3 separate regions of the Homo sapiens genome follow, and all the other regions are linked to region 2. Evidence: fine-mapped expression QTL. A gene starts in region 2. Each other region holds a variant in brackets. All regions are shown on one strand. Distances are between the middles of the regions. Region 1 overlaps TRAM2 (translocation associated membrane protein 2). Region 2 holds the start of TRAM2 (translocation associated membrane protein 2). Region 3 overlaps TRAM2 (translocation associated membrane protein 2).

The links. PIP is the estimated chance that this variant, and not a neighbour inherited with it, causes the effect.
Region 1: its variant is fine-mapped to the expression of TRAM2 in whole blood (TOPMed, PIP above 0.99). The same link has a PIP of 0.9 or more in T cells, blood mononuclear cells and testis.
Region 3: its variant is fine-mapped to the expression of TRAM2 in nasal epithelium (TOPMed, PIP above 0.99).

What each region holds. Positions count from the first base shown.
Region 1 is chr6:52,498,294-52,506,293 of GRCh38, forward strand. TRAM2 (translocation associated membrane protein 2) reads right to left here. Exons shown (of 11, transcript NM_012288.4): 8 at 7,739-7,843; 9 at 7,306-7,449; 10 at 6,298-6,461; 11 at 1-4,977. The coding sequence ends at 4,904. Among named protein-coding and RNA genes, the nearest start is that of TRAM2, 75 kb to the right of the region's middle. RefSeq lists enhancers at 806-855, 5,473-6,672. The variant G/A (reference allele first, on the strand shown) is at 4,026.
Region 2 is chr6:52,573,491-52,581,490 of GRCh38, forward strand. TRAM2 (translocation associated membrane protein 2) reads right to left here and starts at 3,570. Exons shown (of 11, transcript NM_012288.4): 1 at 3,306-3,570. The coding sequence starts at 3,425. It overlaps TRAM2-AS1 (TRAM2 antisense RNA 1), which reads left to right and starts at 3,712. Exons shown (of 3, transcript NR_103446.1): 1 at 3,712-4,903; 2 at 5,885-6,119. RefSeq lists enhancers at 1-374, 976-1,025 and silencers at 1,376-1,425, 3,283-4,142.
Region 3 is chr6:52,546,778-52,553,257 of GRCh38, forward strand. All of the region lies in intron 1 of TRAM2 (translocation associated membrane protein 2), which reads right to left. Among named protein-coding and RNA genes, the nearest start is that of TRAM2, 27 kb to the right of the region's middle. RefSeq lists an enhancer at 5,440-5,609. The variant G/A (reference allele first, on the strand shown) is at 1,897.

The DNA of each region.
Region 1 (8,000 bases), 75 kb before region 2:
AGGGGTAGGGGAGAGGGTTGCTGCGACTAAAACAAGGTAACACTGAATTAGGAGCTCGAACAGTTCTGCAACAGTCAGACATGTATGTGTTTATGTGTTAGCACTTGGAGACTGGGAAGTAAAAGTAAACACCTTTATCATATAAACTTTGGGCTGAATGGGAAGCAAAATAGACCAAAAGAGGTTACGGCAAGTGGGCCTTTTAAAAAAAATCTGGGGGTGGGGAAAATAACGGAGAAGGAGTTTGCTATGTGGGGCCAGAGGAGAGTTTTCGAAGTGGGGGCTGGAAGCTCTGGGCTTCTCTTAATAGGTATGCTTGTGGTTGGGCCACCTCACAGACTTCCACAGCCACCCAGCTGGGCCAGAAGAGAACTGACACAAGGGAGAAACCAAAAACAAAACAGAACACACCACAGACCCTAATCCTGGGCAGCGGGGTTAGAAACAAATGGGGTGAAACTGTCACAATCCGTGTCCCTTTTATATATAACTATACTGAGGTATGGTGTCCTTGGCTGCCGTCGAGCCCTGGCAACTGGGGGCTGGCCACGGAGTACAAGTTGAAAACCACACAGCAAAGTAAGGCACTTATTCTCACACACAGGCGCACGCACGCAATCTGCTTGGGACAAAAAGTCTACAGGGGTTGCCAAGCACGAAAGGCTACATGGAGACTGCAAATCCCAATGCTCGTCTTTATAGCTCTGCCACTCCAGGGAACTCCATAAAAGAATGAGGCAGCTTTCACTGGGGAGAACTGGTCTTCAGCCTTTGCAAGGTGGAGCTAACACTCATGTGAGTAGTGGGGTAGAGTGAGAAGTTGGTAAAGTCTTCCTCACTGGGACAACCTTGAGCTGGAGAGAGATCCTATTTAGGTTTTCCAGTCATCTGACAATGACCTAATCCTCCAATAATCCTGAAAATCCTCTCCTGAGAAAAGGAACCATAAGCTCGGAAGGCAGAGTGAGGGAGGAAGAGCACTCCATTGTCTTGACTCAAAAGCTTTCAGCACTCCCTCTGTTAGAGGAGAGAGCTTAGAACATCAAGAATTGAAGTTTGTGCACTTGTGCCATAGGCCCTTAAGCAAAAGAATTAGTTATGTGCAGACTTCCCTACCTCTCACACCAGGCCTAGAAAAACCAACTAGGAAGGCTGAAGCATACAAAGGAAACCCAAGCGAAGGCCTTTTCTAGGCACAAGGGGGTCGGCAACCCACTTCCAATTAAAGCATCCATGGAAGATAAGAATTTTGTTGTGGAATCCTGGGAGGAGATGCACTCTTTCACCCAACCTCTTATTAGCTGCTTAGAAAAAAGAAGGGGTACTGACAAAGGAGGTCCCAAAAGAGACCCCAGAAGCACACACCCACCCCAAGCTTCAGGGGTTCTTAGGGTCCCAGGGTTTCCGGTCAAGAGAAGGATCTGTGAACGTGGCCAGGGCAGAGGTGTCTATTGGGGTTTCTTAAATGTTGGGAAGTTATGCCTTGGGACATGAACAGACAAGTTTCTCAGCAACCATTTCGGTCTGGTGGCCCAGACACACATGGGATTAGAACTGACTCAAAAGGGAGGACAGCAGATCCCCCGCCGGCTCAGCCTGCTCCCCTCTCACCCAGAACCATCCCCTACCTTCAAAAGGAACACATGCAATTTATTAATAGTGCAGCTATCAGCGCCCGGATGGTAAAAATAACTCCCATCATCACTGCACCTCCAAGGAGGGGAGCGGGTAGCACAGATCCTTGGTCCACCAGCGCCACCTCCCTCTCCTCCTGCTGTGTCTGTTGGCTTCCCCACAAATGTAAGTTAGTTAGCCAGGGCTGTCGAGAGGCCACAGTTGCTGGGGTAGGTTTACGTCTTTTCTCCTGCTCTTGGTGCATGGTGCTGAGCTCTCAAGCTTGGAGGTGTCTGGCAGAGCCTTCACAAATGGCTTGGCACTTTGGGGCAGGAGAGAATGCATAAAACTGAAGAAAACAGCCAAAGTGGCCAAAATTAGAACAAGCTAGCCCAACACGCTCATAGGATGAAGTGGAATTATTTCAGCTCTGGCAACACAGTCTGTGTCAACCTGCCACAGACTTGGCTCTGCTGTGAAATAAACGTGCCAGGGAGGGTGGCAGGGGGAGGGGGGTGACAAAGTACCCTACAACTACCCTCTAACCACCCCCCCCAAACATCCCTGAAGCCCAGGCTGGCAAGATGCCAGCCCCACTCATGGTCTCAGGGTTTTTTTTTGTTTTTTTTTTTTTTTTTACATAAAATAAACCCTTAGCACACCCGTCCACTGGGAAGCAGAGCCTAAGCTGACCCCGGCCACTGGGCTGGTGGGACCACATCCAAGGCATGAAGTACTGGCAGCACGGGGAGCTTGCAAGAGACAGGGACATGAAGTTGTGGCGTCTCTGGCACGCAAGTGTCCTGGGACAGAGCAATGGAAACCTACAGGCATGAGAATGAGGGTTGCTTGATGGCAAGATTTCAGCTGCTCTGCTCACACTACCTCTCCAGCAACTGGCACAACGCAGGCACCTGGCACATCCCAGCATGCCATACATATCTGTTGAAGCCACAACTCAACAGTTTAACCTGGACTCACCTGAGAGAGGCCTCCTGCATGTGAAGCCCTGCCAATGACACAGCCTGGAGAGCACCTAGGATGGGTGTTCTCTAATGGGGGAGGAAGGTGGGCTTAGGAGGCTGCTGGCTGAACATGCGATTTGCAGTTATTAGGCAAGGTGGGGGGCCTGAACTCAATTATAGACTCTGTCAGGGCTGTTTGACTAAAGTGGCTAAGGGATCCCATATCAGGTCTGCTGTGTTGAAACCAAACTGCCCTTTTACCAACGTTTCTGCTGTGCAGCCCAGAGAAGTGTCAGGGAAGGAGAGGGAGAAATGGGGGAAATACATATTTTCAAAAACACTGTCTCACTTCCTAAGGGTAATCAAAAGCAACCACGGGTAGCTCTTCCCATTTCTGCAACCTTATCGTAGAGAGGGATGAAGGCCTCCAATGGCGTTAGGAAACAAATCCCTCAGTTACTGGGAAGCTAAAATTTATCTATGATGTAAGTGACTTGGAGAAGGGGAGTTGCCTTGATGAAAAGACCCATTTCCCCCCTTTTGAATCTAAATCCAAGGTTTGGTTTCTACTGTGATGTCAGAAAGATGACCAGTATTCCAAATGACACTACTATTCCTGCACCTACCAAGAACTACTCCCCTTTGCCTCAAAACAGAGTTCGGAGGTTCTTAATTGGGACTTTTGTTTTTTTAGACAGAATTTCGCTCTTGTTGTCCAGGCTGGAGTGCCATGGTACAATCTCCGCTCACTGCAACCTCCGCCTTCTAGGTTCAAGCGATTCTCCTGCCTCAGCCTCCCGAGTAGCTGGGATTACAGGTGCCTGCCACTACACCTAATTTTTTGTATTTTTAGTAGAGATGGGGTTTCACCATGTTGGCCAGGCTGGTCTTGAACTCCTAACCTCAGGTGATCTGCCCACCTCGACCTCCCAAAGTGCTGGGATAACAGGCGTAAGCTACTGCGTCCGGCCGTAATTAGGACCGGCTTTTTAAAGCTGAACGCCCCTTCTAAAAGTCCTCACAAGGCACCAAAAGGACTTGGAGGCCTTCTCTTCAGGTGGAGGGGAGGGGAAAGAATCTGTGAGGGAAGGGGCCAGAAAGGCGCCTATCATCTACCCAGAGAGTGACTCTCAGTCAGTCATGGTTTCATGCAGTCTAAAATGCTGTAGTTGTGCTCAAAAAACGACAATTCCAAAGAACACTCAACAAGGGCGGCCAGATGAACAGCGGTCCAAGTGACCCTCCCTGAACACCAAGGGACCAGCATGGGGCTGAAGCCCTTGAGACTTAGTGTTTCTGCAGCTAGAGATGAAGTCAAGGTAGTAAGTTTGGCCCCTGACGGGGCTGGCTGGCTCTGGAGGTGAGGACCAGCCTATCTCAGGCAGGTATATGAACTGCTGTTTGGTTTGGTTTTGAATGCTTGTGAATGGCTGAAAAAGCAATGGC[G/A]ACTGGGACTGCTGGAGAAAGGCCTAGGTCGACTCCACTGTGGGTTCTGCCACCATTACCTTTCTGGAGGTGCCTGCTGCGCAGTTTGCTCTGCTCTCGCTCTAAGCAGTGGGAAGACGTGTCCCCCCCCACAGAGCGACAGCAGGCTGGCTTCCAATCCGCGGCCAGCCACTGGTAGGAGCTCGAGTCACGGGACCCAACCGAGTTCACACCATCCTTCTGGATTGAGTTGTCACGTCCCAAAGCCAAATGCCTTGGCATTTACAACGAGCAGTGGCTGCTGTGCCTCAAGATGGTACATGCAGAACTGGAATCATATATCTCGTCAGTTAATCAGCACCAAGGAGATTATGATCCGAGATGGCCGCTCTCTTCTTGCCCATCCACATGAGGACCACCAAGGGCCTACCAGCCCCAGGCTTCTGACCGGCAGGCCCTGGGGGACCGAAGGACAGGACTGCAATCTTAGCTCCCCTCCCATTGTAAAAATCAGACAGAAAAATTGCAAGATAAGGTGAAAATAGGAAGTAAAAAGGAAAAGCAGCAGCCATAAGGCAAGAGACAGAGCAAGCAGAAAGGTGCCAGCCATGGGCGCCTGGCGTTCCAGAAAAGCCAGCACAGGACAGGAGTGAGGACAGGAGGTGGCCTGAGGGGGAGAAAGAGAAAGATTTTTGGCTTTATTGAGAATGGTTTGTGGAAGAATAAGAGGAAGCCAAGAAGAAGGAAAGCGAAACGCCCCCTCCCCCCATTGCAAGACAGGTTTCGGCTGTTTGAGACGGAGCATCACAGGCAGGAAGGAGGAGGCAGGGAGGGGGCCTGGGCTCCTTGCCCCCTGCTCGGCCCCCACCAAGAGGATTCCTGTTCTTAGCACTTTGGCCTTAGGGAGACTTGAGTTTCTTAGTCCGTGGGGAGGTTCCGTTCTCTGCCTTCACCACTCCATTTTCATGGTAACCTGGGAAGTGGAGAGAGACAAGCATACATGGTGTTTCTGCTGGAGCTAAGGCAGAAGAGGGGAGGGTGGGGCCAGGCCAAGGAAGGGGCCCGGGCAGCCCAGCTGCTATACATGGATGCACCAAAGGGGCGCCAGGCTGCAGCCTTGCACAGCAAATGCAAGCCAGCAGACGGCTCCCAGGAGGGTCCTGTCTTCCCCAGGGCCCTGGACTAGTGGCCCTGTTTGAGAGGCTTGGTCTCTGACTGCACTTTAGCAGGAGGGGCCTGGGATGACACACAGTAACTCAGCAACAACAGAGGCCAGCCTGCCCAAGCCTGAGGCTGGGGCTAGATACTCGCCGAAATCACTTAGATGCTGTCACTGCTCACTGTCCTCAGTTCTTCTCAGGCCCCTGCAAGGCATCAGCCCACTTCCAGTTCAGCAAGAACTCCCAGGAGCAGTGGCCACAGAAGGGAGGGGGACAAGAGGCTGTAGGAACAAGGCCTCAAGCAGGATGCCTGACACTCCTCTGGCAGAAAAATTGTGCTCTATTGTTCAAAATACCTCCGTGCGCTTGCTCAAATTCAGAGGTACTGGCTGCAGTCTTATGCCCCATACCTCCCCCGCCAGCCAGGCCTGACTCTGTGACACACCCAGCTGCGCGCGTGTCTGGTTCAAACACACATAAGCCTTTGCCAAGCAGGTGGCCACCTAGAGAAAAGCAGGTGAGTCAGAAAGCAGCGCCCAGTGCAGACAGGCCCCCAGGCTGGGCAGAACGTGCAGGGCTGGCAGGGCCTGAGGACCTGCTGAAGGTGGGTGATGACTGGAGTGCGTGCACGGGCCAAAGGATAAGTGTCCCACCCCTACCCCCCACCTAGCACTATGTCACTGTGAGTCATTCTTGGAGACAGAGGAGGAGCCAGCAAGCTGGGAGGCAGGGGCAGGCTAAGATGTGGAGCAAAAGGGCAGGTGAGGACAGAGGCCGCCGTCCGGCACTGAGAATGGGCGGCGGCGGCAGTAGCAGCACTTGGCTGGGGTCCAGAAGCCACCCTGAGGACACGCTTCCTGCCAGAGTTCCCCACCCAGCCACTGCCCTGCCCCGTGGTGGCCAGGGCTCCCAGCCTAGTTAGGGCCAGCCCCACCCACAGCCTGTCCCTGGCCCACACCCAGCCACGTGCCAATCAGGGAGCTAGGAGCCCCAGCCCTGAGGTAAGAGTCAGGAAGGAGAAGCTGGCAGGATTGGTCTGGGCAGCGCCCAAGAAGCCAGGTGCCTTGGCTCCTCCCACCCATCCCAGACAGACTTCCCTGGCTCCACTCTCTGCCAAGGGCCCTGGCACTCACCAGATTCCCTCTTGATGAGCCTGGCTGGTAGTCTGGGTGTGGCTGGGACTCTCCGCTTTGCACTCTGCTCATTCCAGTATTCCCGCCAGTGCCGCAGCTGGGAGTGGATGAAGCGCCACATGAGCCAGGCCTGGGCGGCACACACCAGCAGCAGCACGCAGAGCCTGCAGAGCAGGGGGTTAGGGGCTTAGGCTGGGGCTTGGGCTCACAGCCTTGGGCTGGGTTGTGCAGGGGAGAACAAGGGCCAGGGGCCCTGCAGTTCCCATGGCTTATCACGTCCGCCTTCACCACTGGCCCTCTTCGATACCACCACTATCACCAGGAAGAATGTGTGCTTCAGTCAGTCTCTGCTCCAGCATACATCACATGTGCCAGGGAGACGGGAAGGAAGTGGCGACAGACGTACGGCCAGCTCTACAATCACGCTACTCCTATGACGAGGGAGGGGTCCATGGCTGTGTCTGTTTTGCGCCCATTGCACAGAACAAGACTAATGTAAGCTCCACAAATATTGGTAGCATTCAAATGAACTGAATTTCTGGAAGAGTGGCTTCTCATTTAACATGTCACTTAAAAGTGGAGCAACCCTGGACAAATCACTCTCCTGGGCCTAGGGGCTCCGGAAAATAGTGGCTTCCTCACTGCCACAGGAGGCCACTGGCCAAGCCATTAAGCACATGGTTTTAAAGCACCCACACACAAGAAGAGGAGAATGATATCAACTGAGAGACTGGGTGTGATGCCTCTGTGCACCACAAAGTGCCAGACAAATGTAAGGGATTCCTATTTGGACTACAGTCTGAGCAAACCAGGACTAGGGGATGAAGATGGTTTGGATGGAACCAGAGGCTGCTATCTCTTCTCCCCTCAGGCCTGATATCCAGAGATTTCCAAAAAATAACAATATGTGGGAGACTAAAGGGTCTGCTGCCTCCAGACCTTCTGCAAGGGCTGTGCCAAGTTCAGGAGGCTCCCTGGCTTATCACCTTGGACTTCTGCTCGACTCACCTGCAAAACAAAGTGTTGAAGTTCCCTTTCTCGGGATCAAATGCCTGGTTTTCCATGCGAGCCAGTCCAAAGCCAATGGCCAGCACGGCAAGGGTGAGGATGAAGAGGCGGGTAACCCCAAAAACAGCAGCCCAGGCACTGAACCTGCTCACAGAGGCAGAAGAGGGATGTCAGTCTTTAGCGCCCTTGAAGGAATCTTCACCCACTTCTCCAGAAGAGACCCCGAGTGGGAAGAGGATTCAAGGGTGGCTGGGGAAAGTGCTTGAGGGACGAGATATCTAAAATCAGATGTTCCAGAAAAAAATAACGGGAGGGCACCACCTGCAGGTAAGCGGGCAGTGTGCAACCAGGGAGGGACCCTCCAACCATCCGGGCCTCGGGGGAACCCCTGCCCAGGCCTCTAAGCGGGCCAGCCTGCAGCAGACCCACTTACAGTTTCTCGTTGTTTTCATCTGCAAAGTAGAAGAGTCTAGCCGTGTGGAAGAGGAACTCAGTTGAGTACTGCAGCAGCAGCAAGATCAGGCCCAGGCGGCTCAGGCTGGGGGTGGGGAAGACTAGACTTACATTCCCTCCAAGATGCTGCGTGGAGCAGAAGCCATTGCATCTTGGCTCAGGCTGTCCCCTGTGCCTGGCTGGGCTCTGCTTTCCACTCCCACTTTCCCTGGCTGGCTCTGCTCCATCCTTTGGATTCAGTT
Region 2 (8,000 bases):
TGCACAGAGCAGCTTCTCTATTCCAAGCAGCCTGTAGGACTGGGAGAAAACCTGGGTTCAGGGGGGAAAAGCTGCCCCCTGCCTTCGAAACAGGATGGCTCAACACTAAACCAAAATTGGGGTAGCAATAGGGGTGAGTGGTGAGGGGAGAGACAGCCTTTCATATGTGTTCCCAAAAGGAAATTATCCCAAGGGAAAGAATTTAGAGTCATCATCTCCCTGGGGACAGAGAACTAAAGCCCTGGGGTCCCTAACGGGGAAACAGAAGCCCCCTGAATGCAGAAGAGGTGACCAGTGAGTGGGGGAAAGAGCAACGCAGGGATGCAATGCAGACACAAGGGCTGTGGCTGCCTGGCGCGTGGGCTGATGGGGGAGAGGGACCCAGCCCATTGGCAGAGGCACGACAGAGGTCCCCAGAAGGAGGAATGGCCAAGAGAGTCGCTCTTTGTGGGAAGAATTATAATTGAGTTTTCCTGGCTCAGCTTCCGAATGAAGGAATCCTAGCCAGGGCCAAGTCAGAACCCCAAAAGCCTATGTCCTCTCACCCCTTTCTCCCATTCCCCTTGCACCTCTTCCTGCCGTCACTTCTAGGAAAAGGGTGGTGAGTCCCCAGTTGCACCTACCATCGCACCATATGCATCCCTACATACCCACACATGCACACCACACACTTCCAGAGAGAAACCCAGAAGATCCTAAGTGATATCCAGCCAGTCCTGTGCTTGGTTATGAGGCGTCTCCCCAGGCTTTACTCTGAGTGTGAAGATGCCCACATTTGTTTCTCTGTGGTACCTACAGTATCCAGGACGCTTCTGCTCTCATTTGATAGAGGCAGCAGTTCCAAACTCCCCCTCCCCACCCCCAGGAATACTTATCTCTGTGGAGAGTTAGTTAGTCGGTGGGTAAAGACAGTGAGGCCCCCACCATGTGCCCAGCACAGAAGAACACAAGACCTTCTTACTGGAGGCTTAGGGCAAAGCCCTCTTTCTCCCAGAGAAGCACAGACTGATGATCTCACAAAGTACCTCCAAAAGAAGGAGACACCTGCCCTGTAGGTCCTGTAGGTTCAAGGTGCTATGGGAAGAAGTGATGGGCTTGGCAGGAAAAGGGGGCCTGTAGGCATTTCAACCAGGGGCCTTGCTACACTCCCCAATACAAGCCTAAGGGGGAGGAAGAGTAGTTTTGTTTGTTGTTTTTCTCGTCTTGGGCCTTTCTCTTTCACCAGATACTGGAAGTAACAGCTCTTAACACCTTTCAACTTTTAGAGTGGCAGGTTTAATGCACAGGACTTTCCATAAGACTAGAGACCCAGGGAAGGAGGTAGGTACCAAACTCAAATGCTGGCAGCCCTTTCTGAGCAAAGATAAAACAGGGAGGGCCACAAACCCTAACAAATGCTAGAAATATGACGGAGAGAGCCACAGGCTATGCGAGAAACTTCGTCGCTGCAGCCTGTGGCTTTGAGGTTTACAGCTGTCACGTGTATCTTTCCAGCCACACCCTCCAAGGCTGGGGACACGCACTTGGAGGCCTCTTAGAATGGAGGACAGCAAACAGACAGCAGAGAATGCGCTGGGCAAAGGAAATTCTGTTATTTTGTTAAGCTATTATTATGATAAATAATCACAGGGCTCCAGGCGCAAGAGACTTTTTCATGTTGGTAGGAGATGTTATGGCTTTTGTTGCTGATATGATCTCAGTTAAACCTTACAACCACCCTGTGACGAAGACCAGTTTTATGAACGTCTTTAATGATGGGGAAACTGAGGCTGCAGTCAGTTTTCAGTCAGACTAGTCACAGAACAGGGACTGAGACACACGGATATGACTCTGTGTGACACCACACACTTCCAGGGGAGAACCCAGAACAAGGTGGAGCAAGCCCGACCCAATATACCACTAGAGAGAGCTGTGAGAGGGAGAGGAAGGAGAGAGGGACTGAACTAAAGGAGCACTATCAAAAAGTGGAGTGGAGACCCCAGTCCTAGCACCACCGTTTATTTCCTACAGACCCTAAAGCTCAGCCACGGACACATTCATTCATCCAACCCTGACTTGGCCACCACAAGAACGTTCCCAGCTTGAGGGCAGCTTCGCCAGCCAATTAGGGCCCTTGTCATTCGTAGAGATACAGGGAACCCGAGACAGAGGGACAGGGAAGGAAATTTAGCCAGGCAAGCCATCCTCCATCTCCAAGGAAGTTTGTAAATGATCACAGCTTCCTAACCCAACCGTGAGAATGCAATAAGCAAGCTGACGCAGAAGGGAGGACAAGGAGTCTCAGGAACCAGAGGAGACCACGGTGAGAGTGAGGGGAATGTCGCTCACATATCTCACTTCTGAGACAAGATATACCGCAACAAACCCATGCCAAGCTTCCTCCAGTTCTTCCCACTTTTGAATATCACATTTTTCTTGCTCTGCAAGAGTAGGGAATCCTTCCCATCAGTCTTGTGAATTCTGACCCCTTGCTGGCTTTCTACAACTCCCTGCCTGGGAGGCCGACACCAGGACATTGCTGTTGGGGGTGGGATCCCCATCCTCTGCCCCCCACTCCTACACTATAAGAGAATCAACTTTCCCCAAAAAGTGGAGGGTATCCCTGTCTCTCTTCTTGTCTCTGTAAAGGGGGTGAAGCTCTGGGTCGCCGCAGATGGATCTAAAGGGACAGTTCACGGAGTGGTAAAGGATATCCAAAAATTGGCCTTCTAGAGCACAGCAAAAAAGTGGGAGCGAGACGAGAGCAGAAGGCCACTGCTGGGATGGGGCCAGGGCCACACGTGAACATCCGAGCACGTTCCAGAGCTGAGATGCAAAACACCCAGAAAATCACATAGGAAGTGGAAAAGGTTCTGGGTCTCTCCCACTGGAAAAGCCCAGAAGAGCTAGTGGCCACCCCTTGGGGCAAGAGGGGGTTGTGCAATGACTGCGGGTCTGGGAGTCTCTGGGCTTGGCTCCTGGACGCCAGAAAGGGAACCCCACGCGTCAAGCCATGGTGGCAGCGCGGCGGTTGGTTCGAGGCCAGGCTGGGGTTTCAGGGCTGCAGACAGAGCTGCAGGATACGATGAGTGCCCAAGGGGGCGGCAGAGCATGGCATGGCTGGCACGGCGCGGAGCTGGGGGTGCTGTCTGGGCTGGCCGGGGTACAGGCCGGAGGGGTACAGTGCACAAAGCCGGGGTGCAGATAACGTACACGGCAGCCAGGAGCCTCCGATCAGAGGAGGGCCCGCTGACCTGCAGGGGTGTGCCGGGCGGTGCACGACAGGGGGCACTGTCCCTCCAGCTCCCTCCTCCCCAGGCTCTCACCTCGAACATAAGCCCGATGAGGACGCAGAGCACCAGGCAGAAGCCGATGTCCGCATGGTTGTGGATGACGAACTCCTGGCTGAAGAGCGGGTAACTTTTCGTCCTCCTGCGGAAAGCCATGGCAGCGGGCGCGCAGCGGCCGGCGGGGCCCGCACCCTGCGCTCACGAACCGCAGCGCAAACTTCTCCAGCACCGGCCCGGTCCGCCCGCCGGCCCGCCGCCCGCTCTCCCACAGCCGCTCGCCCGCCCAGCGCGGAACAACTTCGGGGCCCGCCCCCTTCCTCCGCCCGCCCCCGGCCGCCCGTAACCGCCCCCGGCCGCAGCCCCCGCCCAGCCCCCGCCCAGCCCGCGGCCCGCACTCGGCGCGCCTGGCCCCGCCCCCCGCGGGCTTAACCCTCTAGCCGCTGGGCACGCGCGGGCTACCGGGGCGGAGGCGTACGGGGGCGGCGAGCGGGGCTCGGCTCCTCCTCGTCCCGCGCCAGCGCCGCGCCCGGCCGCATTCTCGGGGCCCGAGGCTCAGCCGCTCGCGGTGGAGAAAGCAGGCCGCGGAGGAGGCGGGCGCCCAGGCCTGCCCGGACAGGAAGTGGGCCCAGCTTTCCCACTCCTCGCTCCGCTCCTTCCTCCGCGGGAAGGGCAGGCCCCGGAGGCAGCGAGCGCCCCGGGGGTGGCCGGGCAGCCGGATGCTCCCGGGGTTGCGGGCTGTGGCCCCGGGGGCTGAGGGCGGCGCGGGTGCGGCGGAAGCAGGGAAGCCGCGAACCGGCCTTCTGGCTGGCCACAGCGCCCTGCACGGACGATCAGTGAATGGAGATTACTCAAGTATTTATCGAGAACTTGCAGTGGGCTAGGCACAGTTCAGGTAGATCAACAAACCGAAAGACCCTGCCCTAGGGGAGCTTTCGCTCCAATGCGGGGAGAGGGTGGATGATTGCAGTTTTGCCCAGTAATTTTTGGGACCCTCATGCCACCATTAATTAGCTACACACATTTCACCGAAAGTCTACCTTACATATTAATCAGAAGAAGTGGAAGAATAAACACAGAAGAAGCAAAAAAGGAAGGAACTTTCTCACTGAAAGTTTCTATTTAATATTAAGTCTTAAAAGTACTCCTGGAAGGACAAAAGGTGTTCTTAATAAATTATATTCGCAAATATTGGATTTAATCCTACCAGTAATGAAGCAGTCAGTTACTTTCTAGATGTGCAGAAATACGTAATGAACAAAAAAAACTAATTCCTATTCCATTTTTTATTAGGTCCACAGTTATTTCACTTCTAAATAAATATGGTTTTTTAAAAGTGGCACGCGGTGGAATGTAATTGAGACAGGATGGAGTTCCTAGAGAAATTTTACTTCCTCAATCTGCACTCCACCTTACTTAAAATACAGTCTTGGGTCTGTAATTCCCTTATCTGACTCTCAAGGAAATGACAAAGTAATGCCTAGATTGGACTAAACCTCATTTAACTTCAAGGCTGACCTTTCTCAAAGTTGAACCTTCGTCTTGTGAGGAACAGAAAGATCAAGAACTCTGAAGCACCTCGACTTTCCACCTGTGAAGATGTGTTCAAATTTGCAACGTGCGGCCACACCTATGAGGTTGAACTTTATACAATTGGTTTCTTTATAGGTTTAGATGGTTGAATTTAAGTTACCCCCACTGCTATTATTATTATTTTGAGACAGAGTCTTAACTCTGTTGCCCAGGCAGGAGTGCAGTGGCGAGATCTGGACTCACTGCAACCTCTGCCTCCTGGCTTCAAGCAATTCTCATGCTTCAGCCTGTAGCTGGAACTACAGGTATGTGCCACCACACCTGGCTAATTTTCGTATTTTTTAGTAGAGGTGGGGGTTTCACCATGTTGACCAGGCTGGTCTCGAACTCCTGACCGCAAGTGATCCGCCATTTTTTGAGACGGATTCTCTGTTGCCCAAGCTGGAGTGCAGTGACGCCATCTCGGCTCACTGGAACCTCCTCCTTCCAGGTTCAAGCAATTCTCCTGCCTCAGCCTCCTGAGTAGCTGAGATTACAGGTGCCCTCCACCCCCTGCTAATTTTTGTATTTTTAGTAGAGACAGGGTTTCACCATGTTGGCCAGGCTAGTGTTGAACTCCTGATCTTCAGTGATCCACCCGTCTTGGCCTCCCAAAGTGCTGAGATTACAGGCCACTGCACCCAGCCTTTTGCTACACATTTATACTAAACTATATTATGGGGCAGCACAGTAGGTTTGTTTACACCAGCATCACCAGAAACACGTGGTTAATGCATTGCGCTACAATGTTACAGTGGCTACGACATCACTATGTGATAGGAAATTTTCAGCTCCATTAAGATCTTATGAAACAACTGTTTTATATGTTGTTTGACCTGAATATCATTACGTGGCATATGGGTATATGTCCTCCAGTTTTTCAACATTCCTTCCTTCAAAAAGAGGCAATTCGTTCCCCCACCTTGAGTGTGGGCTGGACTTAGTGGCTCACTCCTAATAAATAGAAGGTAGCATAAGTGATGGTATGTGACTTCCAAGACTAGGCCAGAAGAGGCATTTGAGGGTTTCTGCTTTCTTTCTCTCAGGTCACTCCCTCTGGAGGAAACCAGCTGCCACTTTGTGAGGATACTCATAGTCCTGTGGAGGCATATCCTCCATATGGCTGAGACCTCCTGCGAACAACCATCACTGACTTGCCAGACATGAGTGTGCCACCTTGGAAGCAGATTTTCCAGCCCCAGTTAAGCCTTCAGATGACATCAGCCCCTGCTAATCTCTTGACTACAACCTCATGAGAGACCCTGAGCCAGAACTAGCCAGGTAAGCCACTCCTGAATTCCTGACCCACTGCACCTGGGAGAGAATAAATATTTGCTGTTTTAAACCACTAAATTTTATTGTAATTTGTTATACAGCAAGAGATAGCTAATACACACTGCTAAAGCTTACAATCTTTTAGAATTGACTGAGACATCATTACAATTCAGTGTGATGATGGTGACTCTAAGAACAACCTGAAATATGCACACTCTGAGTACAAGGAAAAGGTAACCTAATTCTCTCTGGGGTGTAAGGGAGGAGGTCATTTGGGCTGGGCCTTTACCTGACAAATGGTACTGACAGAGAATGCAGAAAAGGAGTGATAGATGAATTTGGAGAGTTAAGATAGAACTGGATTGTGGCAGGTTTTGTATGCTGTGATAAAGAATTGTGACTTTATTCTGCAAACAATGGGAAGGAATGGAAAGTTGGTGTTTTTTGTTTATTTGTTTTTGAGATGGAGTTTCCCTCTTGTTGCCCAGGCTGGAGTGCAATGGCACCATCTCAGCTCACTGCAACCTCCACCTCCCGGGTTCAAGAGATTCTCCTGCCTCAGTCTCCCAAGTAGCTGGGATTACAGGCATGTGCCACCATGCCCAACTAATTTTGTATTTTTAGTAGAGACAGGGTTTCTCCATGTTGGTCAGGCTTGTCTTGAACTCCCAACTTCAGGTGATCCACCCACCTCAGCCTCCCAAAGTTCTGGGATTACAGGCGTGAGCCACTGTGCCTGGCAAGAAATGGAAAGCTTTTAAGCATGACCAGATCTGTCTTTAGAGGAGAACTATCAGGAGTATGGAAGACCATCCTGATTTAAACAGGAAGACCACTTTGGAAACTATTATAACAGTCCAGTAAAGAAATGGACACTTCTCTCTTCTTTTTGAGACAGGGTCTCTGTCACCCAGGCTGGAATGCAATGGTGCAATCACAGCTCACTGCAGCCCCAACCTCCTGGGCTTAAGTGATCTTCTTGCCTCAGCTTCCGAGTAGCTGCGACTACAAGCACACACCACCATGCCTGGCTAATTTATTTCTATTTTTTGTAGAGACAGGGTCTCCCTCTGTTGCCCAGACTGGTCTCGAACTCCTAGGCTCAAGTGATCCTCCTGCCTCTACCTCCCAAAGTACTAGGATTATAGGCATGATCCACTGCGTCTGGCTAGCACTCCTCAAAGAACAGTAGCAGTAAGAATAAAAGGGAGTTGAATGAGTCAGAACTTGCATCTGGGATAACATAAATGATGGTGGGACCATTAAAAAATTTATTTGGAATAACAGATAAAGAGCATGTTTAAGGGAGGAGAAGAAGATGGCCTCTGCTTTGAACAAGCTGAGGTTGAGGAGCCATGGAACACTTTGACAGCTCAGTTGGAAACTGTTGGATTGGACTTGGGGAGGGAAAATCACAACTAAAGTATTTTCAGTTCATCTTCAGTAGGACTGTTGAGGTCATCAGGTTATATAAGTGTTCTGAGAGAATGAGAAAAAGTCTGAGGTCAGCAGAATCCTAGTGAACCCCGACACTCGGAATGGGGGAAGATGAGGAAAAGGAAAGCGTGGCGTAGAGGAAGCCACGACATAAGAATTTCGTTAAGGACAGGTTGAATCAGGCAGAACAAGAATGAGATGAAACTCCCAGATTCAGCCATCGTGGCTTTTAGAGACCACTTAATTGAACATTAGAGTGGGCTTAACAGTAGGTAGAAGTTGAGAAAAGGAGGTGGGTAAAAACGTCTGTTTGTAAAAAAATGTTTTGTGAGAAAAAGAGAAATGGATGGTGTTTTGAGGGCTATGGAAGATCTAAGGAAGGACCTTTAAATTATATTTAATTTTTGAGATTGGAGCATATTTGGAGACAGAGAGGAAAAACCCAGGAGA
Region 3 (6,480 bases), 27 kb before region 2:
AGGCAGGAGACCATTGTAAGGAGTCAGCTGCACACCTGCAGATGCCCCAGGGAGGACCAGTCAACTCAGGACTGAAATGTGAGCAGCCCGTGACCAGGTTTTTGTTTTGTTTTCTGATGGGTCCCAAGTGCCTACAACAGCGCTTGGCACATAGTGGGGATTAATAAATATTTATGTAATGAATGTGTGAAGTGTCCATCAGATTTGTAAACCAGAGGTCACTGGTAAATGCTGCCAAAGCTGGAGGAAAGGAGGGGCAGAGCTGGTGTGTATGGGTGAGCATGGAGTGGGAGTGTGGAGACAGAAGTGTGGACTGCTCGGTCTAGCAGCTCAACTCTGAAGGAAAGCAAAGAGCTCGGGAGCTAGAGAGGAGTGGACAGTCAGGGAGGTGCGGGAGAAGCTTAGACCACGTGTGGTGACAAGAAGGACCATGGAGAGAAATGTGGTTGGACATGCAGAAAAACAAGGGGGCCTAGAGAGGATGATCTCCTGGGAATTACACCAATCCAACGGGTATTTCTTCAGGAACTGAGATCCAGTGCTGCAGAGAGGGATGCCCAAGAGGGTGCACTGGGCCTGGGCAGCTTTTGTTAAGACCACGCCCTTTCTCAGTTCCCCAAGACCCCTGCTGCTTGTGCAGTTCGGACACCTTGTCTTGATACACACACCAGCTATGGAGAAGACGCTCAATAAACACCCCATGAATTAATGTACTTTCAGAGGAGCTAGAGGGGAGAGAGGCAAAAACAAAATGAACATCCTTCCTCCACTATATTCGCAAAGGGGCTGGGAAATTTTCTGCTATTTAATCAATTCTTTTGAACCGATGCTACACTGCCACTCTCAGCAGCTGTGACTTTACTTTCATTCATTTCTCTAGAGGGACAGGCAGGGCCACCTAGATGGATTTACAAGGGATGACTGTTCTGCACGTTCCCAGGGGGAGAACTGTCAGGGTGCCAAAGGGGTGGAGGGCCACGGGAGGCCTCCGGTCTCCTCTCAGCCTGTCAGCCTTTATTGCGTCGGCTGGACTGACAGAGTTCAGAATCAGAACCCACAGATATGCAGATAAGCACCTGGCCATGGGCCAGGATCCATATTCACACTCTACAGCCACAGTGACTGCTGCCATAACCATGGGGCAATTCCAGATCTGACAATGGCCACACAGGGTTTTCTAAACAGATATGTCATGGAAAGCATTAGAAGTATGGTGTGTTTGTGTGCTTATGTTCATGTGCACAAAGCTGGCTGGTAAGGCACTTTCACACCCTAGTAATATGTCTTTGTTTAGCACTGTCCCTACAAAACAAAATATAAACATTTTTAAAAATCAATTCTTCAATCACAAAATATTGAGCACATGCTCTGGGCAAGGCACAATGCTACTGGAGATGAAAGCAATTACGAGACCCGCTTCCTTCTCTCAAAGGCTCAGGACCAGAATCCAGAGTCAGGCTATACATCTATCTACTCCAACTCCATTATCACGAAGACGATAAAACCAACCACTCTTCTTTGAATATTTACTGCAAGCCAGGCAAGGTAAAGGCATTTTACACAATCACATCAAATAATCCTCAGCAACCCTGCAAGGAGCGACAATGACATCTAACGTGTGAGATCTTATGAAATGCCAGGCACTGTGCTAAACGCCAAACAGGATTACCTCATCTAACCTCCAACTCTATAAGGAACTGCTACATTACTACTATTCACTGAACTTCTATCACCTGCCAGGAACTGCTCTGAACACTTACAGAAATGATCTCACTTAATGCTCCCAGAGGCCCTAATGTGCAGAAAAGTGAGGCCCAAAAAGCTTAAGCAACACGCCCCAAGGCACACAGTTAATAAGCCCCAGAAGCGGGACTAGAATCCAAGATCCATCTGACC[G/A]TGACATCTGGACTGTTAATCACCATGCTACCTGAACGATGTGCCTAAGATCTAATGATCAAAATGAGACCTTGATGCATAAAGGGTTCATTTTAAGACAAGAGATGTCATAGATCAGGACAGCGTTAGGCAAAGGGCAAGTGGAAGCTCCTTTGCTTTCTCCAGGGCAAAGACCATGTCTTTATTTATCTCCATACCCACAGTGTTCTTGGCACAAAGGAGAGACCCAAAAAACATCTGTTAGTGCCCTGGGTTTGGAGATTTCTGGACCTTCTCTGAGAAGATTTCTGCGAGGCGGTGATTTGAGCCAGAAACATGTACAGAAAGTGGATAAAAGGGGGCAGGTGAGGGTTAGAACAGAATCATGATGGCACTGAGAAAGGACTGGAGAAGGCCTAGAGATACAATGGTTTAGCTTAGGATAGTCATAACGGCTTTACGGGGGCTGTCCACCGTGTGGTCCAACTTCAGATCTCAGCTGTGCCCATTTGTTTCAAATGAACTAGTCTAAAATGGAAGAAACGATATCTGGCCCTCAGACCCCTTAAAGCTTTCCTTCCCTTCCTTCCCTCCTTCCCTCCCTTCCCTCCTTCCCTCCCTCCCTCCCTTCCTTCCAAAAGCTGCCCAAAATCAACTGTCTGTCTCCTGAGTTCATCAGTGGGGATACCATCTATTCCAGCATGGTGCGCATTTCAAAGCTTTGCTTCCCACAATGATTCAAGCCAAGATAAAGAAATGATTGTCTCCCTCAAAGTATAAAGGAGGCAACATCGTAACATAAAATTTGAAAGTCTCTTCAGCCACAAAACTCTAAAAAACCATCTCATATTTCATAATTAAACAATTAAATTTCATCAGTTACCTAACAAATACGGGAGTCCAAGCTCCTGCATGTGAAACAGTCAAGAAAGCCATTTCCTGTTGGATACAGATACTCAAAGACTAGTAGTAATTAGACACGGTGATTAGAATTCCATTTATGCTGCACCAGAAACTCCTCTTGGTCCCTGAGGGCTAGGGTGCAAATCACTGGGGCAAGAGAAGGAAATGGGTTTAAGTGGTGCTTGAGTATTATCTGAACCAGCCAAAAGATGGAAGTGGAAGCATTTAATGCGCCATCACTTTAAGAAGCAATGGTGATTCTAAATCTCACCAGAAATCAGGGCAAGAGTAGCTTAAAGTTAGATGTGTTGCACTATTTGGCTTATTACAATCAGGAAACGTCTGTCCAAAAGTCCTATTCTCAGAGATGGTAGTATTTCAGGGACATCAGTTTAGCTTTGCCACCCTTTGATTGCCTGTTGTCATATATGAGGTAGGAGTCAAACAGAAGGCAGAATAGCATCTGTAAGTTCTACTGGGCTGCACAATGCTCCATCCTACCCTGTGTCCCAGAACAGACAGCTTCACCTTTATGGAGTACTTCAGTGGGCTTCCGATGGAATCTGCAGAACATGAGAGAGCATGAAAGGGGTATTCATCACCTGGCTCCTTTCCTGCTGGACAGTTCTGGCAGTCACTGCAACCCTCCACCAAAACTCCAGCCCCTCCCCTTCAACCACAGCTCTCAATGGTATTTCCTCTCTCCCTTCCTTCTTAGTTCTAGATCCATGCTATCCTCAGCCCCTTCAAGCTTAGGGATAGCTCCCCACGTTCGCAAGCCTTAGAATGCTTTACTGTTCCTTATCTGTTTCCCCTGAGCCAGTCCACGCCCTTGTTAATAGTGCCTACATAACCATTCCTCAATTACCCCACCTGTTTCCTGTTGGGACTCTGACTGATGGAGATATGCTACTCAAATAAAAGAATACTAACACCATATGATAATAATTAACCTCATCAACGTAACTGCTGGCAATGGGACACTATTTTTATTTTTTATTTTTATTTTTTTTGCGACAGGGTTTCACTCCCGTCATCCAGACTGGAGTGCAGTGGCAAGATCTTAGTTCACTGCAGCCTCTGCCTCCCAGGCTCACGTGATTCTCCTGCCTCAGCCTCCCGAATAGCTAGGATTACAGGAATGCACCACCACACCCGGCTAATTTTTGTACTTTTAGTAGAGATGGGGTTTCATCATGTTGGCCAGGCTGTTCTTGAACTCCTGGCCTCAAGAGATCCACCTGCCTTGGCCTCCCACCTGCCTTGGCCTCCCAAAGTGCTGGGATTACAGGAGTGTGCCACCATGCCCAACCGAATAGGACACTTTAAACCAGCAAAATTATCCTCCACACACATCCTGGTACTACCCCTCATGAAACGCATGGGAGGCAGACAAATCGCCACTCTTTATGGGCCATCTAATTTCCAAAGGACCAACAGTGTTGATAACCCACTTCAGAAATGGTTTTCTTTAGGCATGACACCCTGGGACTGGCTTCTCACAAACTCAGATCAAGATAAACCACTGTGGTGGACGAACAGTTTCCTGCCTGAGTTTTTCAAGGGGGCCTTTACTGAGGCAGGAGGAGGTGAATATAGGATTTTGAGGACACCACTGGCCTCAGGCTGCAGTGACAAATATGAGTCCTGGCTTCATGAACACTCGATCACATAGCTTTATTATTTTGGAAAAACATATCCGTTATGAATGGGGACTGGCTCTACACTAACCAATAATGTCTCCTAATTAATATCTGATCTGTTTCAGCCCGGAAGGCAAAGGATCTTTTACCTTTATGTGCTCAGAGTGCCACACAGGGTTGCTTGGATGTAGGGATTACGCTGCTAGTCCCTAGCCATTTACCTCCCTTTCACAAAGGGATTCTTTCTAACGTTTTCAGGATAGAGCAGCAACTGGAGTGAGGGTGGGCATGCAGGGGAGGGTGAATGAGGGAGGAGAGAAAGTCTGCAAACAAACGGGCCACTTATCTCCAGGAGTCTTTCTACCTTTTCCTACAGCTGAGTAGCTTGGGGGCAGGTTGTCTGCCAAGCTTCCCTGGCCCGTGTAAACACTCTGGCACCAGCTGGGGTTTGGAATCTGCTGAGTCTCTGCCAGCTGGCAACCTGGAGATGGGTCAGATTAAAGGAATGCATAATGAAGAAGTGGGTGGGAGACAGAGGCTGTATTTACACAGAGGGGGTCTGCAGGGGTCAGTACGGCGCTAGCCAAAGGGGCCTCTGGAAGTGGAAAAATAGGAAGGGAAGAGGAAGGGGTTTCAATGTGCCCAAGCACCATGCCCCACCCAACTGGCCCAAGACTGTTATGTTCATTTATTTTTTTCCTTTTAAAAACTGACTTCTTTGTCCCCTTCTCAGTCCCCCACAGCATCTCCCAAGCCAATTACACACAGCCCTTTGAAAGGTTTGCAGCTGGCCGCTCGAGAAGGCTCAGCGTGATCAGACAACACGGACACTTGATCTTCTGAGATCCCAATTTGGGAACGTTAACACGGAAACCCTAGCCACGTGCTGACAAGCAGGCCCTGGGCCACATTCTGCCCCAGACTGAGCCCTGGCAAGAGGAGAGGGCACAGATAGCCAGCAGTCTCAGGCAGCCATCCTGGCTTCCAGCCTTAAAGAGAGCGAGATTCCAGGCTCCTCCCCCATGCAAAGCCCAGGGGGCACGGATGCAGAGAGGACAGCCCTGGGACAGGACCAACAGGCTCCCCAGCCCTTTCACTACCCCGAGGAGGCAACGAAGACAAGAACAGACTGAAATCTGTTGGGTACTTGGTGGCCACACCTGCTAGGAAGGCCACCTGCAGCTCTACTGAAGCCCATGCAAATAGGTAAAGCTCAAATGGCTGTACATATATTACTAAGAGGAAGCAGAAGGGAGAAAAGTGCAGTGAGGAGGCAAGAGACCTGTTCCCTGACAGCTCAGCCACAAACCCGACGGGCTGCTTCCAGCTGCTCCCATCCACCTCACTGGGCCTCAGAGTTCTCATGTTTTAAGGGTGTTCTCTGAAGTCCCTTTGTATCCACGGATTCTTCCCCATGCTTCTGTGACACGGCTTCACTTCCAGGCTCCCAGTGCAAGCCTCAGCTCTTCTTGCTTTCTTGGAAATCTCTGCTGTAGCAGCCACTTCTATTCCGGCGACACTCAGATCTACTTTTCCTGCTGAAATCTTTCTCCCCAGGATGGGAGGTGGGAGGCTGCATCTTTACCTACATAGTGCATGATTAACTCCCGTTCAACATGCCAAACCTGGTGCCCAGGAGAAAGCTCTATACTTGCCTATGTCCCAGGCTGCAGTCAAAGACTCCCCACCTTTCCTTATAGCCCCTTGTTGGCTTTTTCCTTTACTATTTTATTAAATCCATCATTTCTACTCCCAATGCTGCTAAGAGCTTCATATTCTCATTTGCCACCAGCCTGTAGGAGAGACTTCTAACTGGATCCTCAGCCTCAAGACTCAAAACCCCTTCCTCCCCTCCCACTATCCATAGCTAGAATAGCCAGGCATATACACACAAACATACACGCACACACCACAGCCCCTCCATTGCCTTCTGCTGCTTAAAGGATAATGTCTAACTCTTTAATCTGGCATTCCTAATCCTCCCTGCCTCTCCACATTTGATTATCACAACTTTCCAAACTAATATGATAGTCCTGGATGTCCTAAAGGATATATTAAG